2 separate regions of the Homo sapiens genome follow, and region 2 is linked to region 1. The links come from fine-mapping of genetic effects on gene expression. Tissue or cell type: pancreas. Region 1 holds a variant in brackets; the other region holds the start of a gene. All regions are shown on one strand. Distances are between the middles of the regions.

Region 1 (2,755 bases):
TCCCAGCTCCCAGCACAGGCCTCCTCCCTAGAGCCGCAGGCCTCACCACACAGAGCTGGGCCTTCGCCTTGCCGGAGGCTCATCTAGTGGGCCGCGTATCCCTGGGCACACCTCTTTCCTCTCTGGGTGCCACTTTCCTCAGCTGGCCACTGGGGAGGATGGCCTTGGTGACCTCCACGGGCCCCTCCAGCTCTGGCTTCAGGCAGCTTTGTGCATGTGCGGTGCAGCTACCCTGCAGTCCCTGGTGGAGGCTGGCGGTGCGAGTGCCCCCCAGCCCTGCACTGTGTCCCTGGAGAGCCACTGCAGCCCTCCTAGTCCCCGGTTCAACCCCTGGAGTGCCCAGTGATCACCTGACAGTCCCCACCCCCAAACTGGTATCATGAAAGCCACTCCAGAGAGAGTGTTGTCTTCTCCTGACCATAAGGACTTCCCCCATAAAAAGAGACTCCCTGCGTGTTCCTGGTCTCTTGCCCTTCACGCTCACGACGCATTTCCTACGCGCTAATTCAAGTCCCTCCTGCTGTATGGACTTCCATCCAGAGGCTATCTGAGGCTCCCTGCCAGCTGGGCCAGATGCATCCCCCTCCCTTGGCTCTCAGCAGGGCAGCGCCCTAGAGGACAGCATCCCCACTCCTCCTAGGCTCCAGCCCAGAGCTGCATGTCACTTGCCCAGACTCAGGGCAGCCAATCACAGGAGGCCAGGAGTGGCCCTCTCTCCTTCTTGGGAGCTGATCCCAGATCAGAGGAGCCCCCACCCCCTGCCGCCCCTCCTCCCTCCCCTTCTGGGTGTGTTGCCGTTTGAAGTTGAATCAGGTAAAGTGTACCTGGCTCCCGGTGCTGTGGCAGGAAAGCCCGGCCAGAGGCTGCTGAAGGTGCTGCTGGGCAGGCGGGCAGCCCCGGAGATTCCGCAGTCCCCCCAGGAGGTTCAAGAGCCACTGATCAGGATAAGCGCTGCCGGAGGAACAAACCCAGAGAGGTAACCGTGCGAAGGTGGTGGCTGAGGGATGTGCCCGAGTTTGATCCTGAAATAGTGATAGCCCCACCCGGCCTGGAGGAGGGAGGCCAGGAACACTGTTTACTC[AGGGCT/T]TAGTCACCCCTGATGGCTTTCCTACCCAAAGGAAAGGAAAACAGAGCCAAGCCACCTGCTGGCTGGGGTTACGGCACCCACCAGTGCTGGGAGAAGGCGAGATCAGCTGTGCTGCCAAGGACATTGCCACTGAGCGGGCATTTTCCCATGGACTTGCTCGTCGTGAAGGGTCTAGGCAGGAGGAGAGCTAGGCCTGGGTCTGAACTTGGGAGCAGGCTCAGGAGGTGCAGAGCAGTGGTGAAGGGCCTGGCCACAGGAGAGATGGCCCGGGCTCACACCCTAGCTCCATTACTTAATTGTTGTGGGACCACAGGCCATTTGCATATCTAGGTCTCTGTCCCTTCACCTGTTAAGTGGGTTAATAATAGTATATGGCTCACAGCACTATGTGAGAATCAAATGGGTAAAGTGCTTAGACTAGTACTTGGCATAGAATAAATGTTATATAAATATTTTTGTTGTTTTTAATCATGCTATTTACTAAAAATATGATCCCCCTTAAACTCACTTAAGCTTGCTGAGCCTCAGTTTCCCCATCTGTAAAATGGGAATAGAAAGTGATTTAAGGGAGGGCGGGACACAGTGGCTCATGCCTGTAATCTCAGCCACTCAGCAGGCTGAGGCGGGAGGATCACTTGAAGCCAGAAGTTCAAGATTCTGTCTCTACAAAAAAATTTTTAACAACCCAGCATGGTGGTGTGTAGCTATAATCAGGAGGCTGAGGCAGGAGGATTACTTGGACCCAGGAGTTCAAGTTTACAGTGAGCTATGATCGTCCCACTGCTCTCCAGCCCACATGACAAGGTGAGATCCTGTTACTTAAAAAAAAAAAAATTAACTTTAAAAGAGCTAAGGGAACTTGAAGAGATTAAATAAATAAATTGCTAGCACATGGTAAGGTGCCTAGTAAATAACAGTCTCCTTCCCTACGGTGTGAGCCAAGATTCTGTCCCCGTTAGAACACAGCATTTCCTCCCACTCAGTGCCTGTGCTTTTTATCCTGCTCCCCGAGGAGGCAGTTTGGATGGATGAGTTTTGTATTTTCAGGCTCAGACCTCTGCATCGCTGCTCTACCACAGACATTAAAGGAAGGTGACACGGCTCGTGAGACCACCTGCTTTGCTATAACAGTCATGGACTGGTGACACTCACCTGTGCCCATTCAATTGCCATTCATCCAGCAGCAATTCAATTACCCCTCCACATCAGGCTACTTCTTGGACACCTCCTATGTGTCAGGGGCAGGGCTGGGCCCGCAGGATACAGAGGGAGCATGAGGTTCCTGCCCTTCAAGGAACTCCTGCTCCTTGAAAGAGCAAGACACAAATGCACAGCAAGGTGAACAGCAAGGCGAGGGCACGCCAATGAACTATGACCACTGAGAGCAACGCACCAAGGCTTTAGGATTCAGGGAGAAGGAGAAAGAGCAGAAACAGGAGAGGGTAGTAAAGCTCTGTGGACAAAGAAAGACCCAAACAGCTTCCAGAAGTAGGAGTTGGATGAGTGGAAAGGCAAGGGGCTAATTCTCCCGGAAAGGAGCAACTCTGTGAACATGGGCTAGAGGGGAGAACGCAGAGGCTGCTTGAGAGAAGAGAGTTATGTTCACGCTGAAGCTGAGGGCTGATTTGGGGATATGGGGGAAAAGAATGTTGGAGAGAAGGATGGCAG
Region 2 (2,622 bases), 64 kb before region 1:
TGCCAGTCGGTGACCCCCACACTGGAGTAGTTTGAGTTCAACACAGCTATCTGAGTCATCATCCCCATCGTCACCCACATCATCACCACGAGCAGCTATCATCCTGTTACTCAGCTATTGGTCACACATGAAGAAGGATGACGCTGATACCACTCTTCTCCCTCCAGCCTCCTGCCTACAGCTCCCAGCAGAGGAGGGCAAAAGAAGCAAAGCTCTTGGGGGAACTTAGGGATGTGACGTTAAGCATCCACTTCTGGAGCTCCACTCTCTTTTAGAATAAGCCAGATTTGGTACAAAGTCAATGACACAGGGAAAGAGATCTGTTGGATTGGAGACTAGAGGGATGTAGTCTCAGTTGGAAGGGATGAGAAAGGAAATGAATTCTCTCCTCCATAATTCATTCCCACATTTGAGAAGAACTCCAGTTCTTCCCAGAAGGAAACAGCAGTTTGTGTCCTCACTTCAGCTGTCCCAACAACACTCTCAGCACTGGATCCTGGGACAGTCCCTCCCTGCCCCCTCTCCAGGACCTATGGCTCCCCATCCTTTTTCCCTACCCTCCCCGGATCCATCCTGCACATCCAGGTCCCTGCTACCTCCAGTTGGTCCCTGCTACCTCTCAACTGGTAGAAATTGAGGCAGGAAGAGCCAAATGGAGTTCTCTCAACTGCTTTGACCATGATACTAACCAAAATATAACAAGTCCCAGCCCGAGGTCCTTATTCTGGACTGCTAGTGATATTTTTAATCTGGTCATCGTATCACACCCAAAGTCAAGCCGTGTCCAGAAAATTAGAGCCAGGACAGAAATGCCCAGACAGGACACACTGAAATTCTCTCCTCCAGATATCCTGGAGTAACCTAGAGGGGATACAGGTGCACCCCAGCGTGTGATCCGCCAGCCAGGGAATGTTCCCCAGGCAGACATCCTGCCCACTGCCTGCCCCTTCCTGCGTAGAAAAGCTGGACAGCAGGCTAGTGTCTCCATCCTGGCCCTACCCTGGCCCGGGTGGGCAGCCAGGTGTGAGCACCCACTTACCTGGGTGTACAGCTGACCTCCCGCTTCCTGTCTGCTCCCTCTTCCCCGTTTCCAGCTGCTGCTTGCTGAGGCTCTGGATTGACTGGTAGTGGACAGGCAGGGCTGGAGCAGGTGTCGGTTGCTGCAGGCGCCTCTGCTCCCTCTGCCCCTCCCACTCACCCCGCCTCCTCCTTCTCCTCCAGTCCAGGCTTGGCAGGGCAAGGCCCCCAGGGCTAACATTCTAGCTCAGAGGAGGTCAGAGATGGAAGGGTCCTGTGACATCAGTCCATCCAACTCCTCGCTTTGCAGAGCTTTAAGCTCTTAACCAGACTGGCTTAGTGTAAATTTGCCCCATGAAGCCTCATTTATACGACCCTTTTTAGCAAGGACATTTTCATCATCCAAACCCTTAACTTTTCAGCTAAGCTGGTCCCTTGGGACCTTTGACACCATAAGTCACACAGATACATAAGCCACTGCCCTCTTGGGAATCACACCTCCAAGTGGTATCAAACAGGCAGCAAACTTTGGGAGTGGGAGGGAAGGCAGCCATTAACGGAGTCACAGACACAGAGTCCACCGAGAGTGACCAGGAAGGAGGAGACCCTGGGAACTGTGTAGTCAGCAGGCCTGCTGGAGAAGGTGAGCTTGCTCAGGAGCTTTTCAAGGAACAGAAGGGGTGACCTGACCAGCAGGGTTGGGGGCGAAGTCGGCAGGGCAGATGGTTGGGTTTTTGGTCGGACAGATGGATGGCAAGTGGAAATTGGAAATACAATGGCTGGTAACAGATTTTCTTAAGGAGAGTGGAGGGCAGGTGAGGCCCAGGAGATAAGGCCACCTGGTGTGCTTTGAAAGAGCCACCTTCTCTCTCCTTAAGGACAGAGAACTGCTTTGTTGCCACCCATAAGCGAGGCTTGATTGAGGATTCAGGTGAAGTAGAAGGGAAATGGGGTGAATGTTTGCATCCAGGGGAGGACACTGAATATTTACATGTGTTGATTAGCATCTTGCCAATTTCTACAGGCGCTACCTCTGGATGTGCTCCGAGAGGGGAGGTGTTTGACCTCTTCTGCGCAAGTACGTGTATGTGTGTGCATGCATGCACACACACATACATTTGTGTGTCCTCCCTGTGTGTTTCTGAGTGTCAGGGCTGGTCTTTCATTTGTTCAACAAACATGTGTTGAACACCTACCGTGGGTTGAGCCCTGGCTCTGGCACTGTGTTAAGCCCTAGGAATACAAAGGTAAGCAAGTGACAGGGCCCTCCCATCATGAAGTTCACAGTCTAATGGGGCAGGTAGATGTAGGGGCTCCAAAGGAGACAATGGAGAGTGTGAGGGGAGGGCTGGACCTTGGAGAGCAAGGGAAAGAGTGGCAGTGAGAGTTGAGTTTGGACAGGTAGGCTTTGGGGGCCATTGAAGAGTTTTGATCTCTATTGTAAAGGTTACTGAGGTTTGTTTAAGCTGGAGGGGTGACAGGATCCAATCTGCATTTTAGAAGAACTCATTCTGGCTGCAGAAATGGAAGGGATTGGAGGAAGGAGAAAGTGAGAGGCAGGAGTCTACCTCCCAGGAGTGCAGTCCCAGGAGAACACCCTAGGGT

Direction of the effects. Alleles are on the strand shown, and positions count from the first base shown. SD is a standard deviation of normalised expression in the study named.
In carriers of allele AGGGCT in region 1, the expression in pancreas of the gene that starts at base 1,123 in region 2 tends to be higher than with T alone (moderate effect, 0.66 SD a copy in GTEx).

Evidence for each region. PIP is the estimated chance that this variant, and not a neighbour inherited with it, causes the effect.
Region 2: IGFN1 starts here. The variant in region 1 is fine-mapped to the expression of IGFN1 in pancreas (GTEx, PIP above 0.99).

Annotation. Positions count from the first base shown.
Region 1 is chr1:201,125,305-201,128,059 of GRCh38, reverse strand. It overlaps ASCL5 (achaete-scute family bHLH transcription factor 5), which reads left to right and starts at 876. Exons shown (of 2, transcript NM_001270601.2): 1 at 876-976. RefSeq lists enhancers at 1-691, 692-1,682. The variant AGGGCT/T (reference allele first, on the strand shown) is at 1,082.
Region 2 is chr1:201,189,325-201,191,946 of GRCh38, reverse strand. IGFN1 (immunoglobulin like and fibronectin type III domain containing 1) reads right to left here and starts at 1,123. Exons shown (of 24, transcript NM_001164586.2): 1 at 1,040-1,123.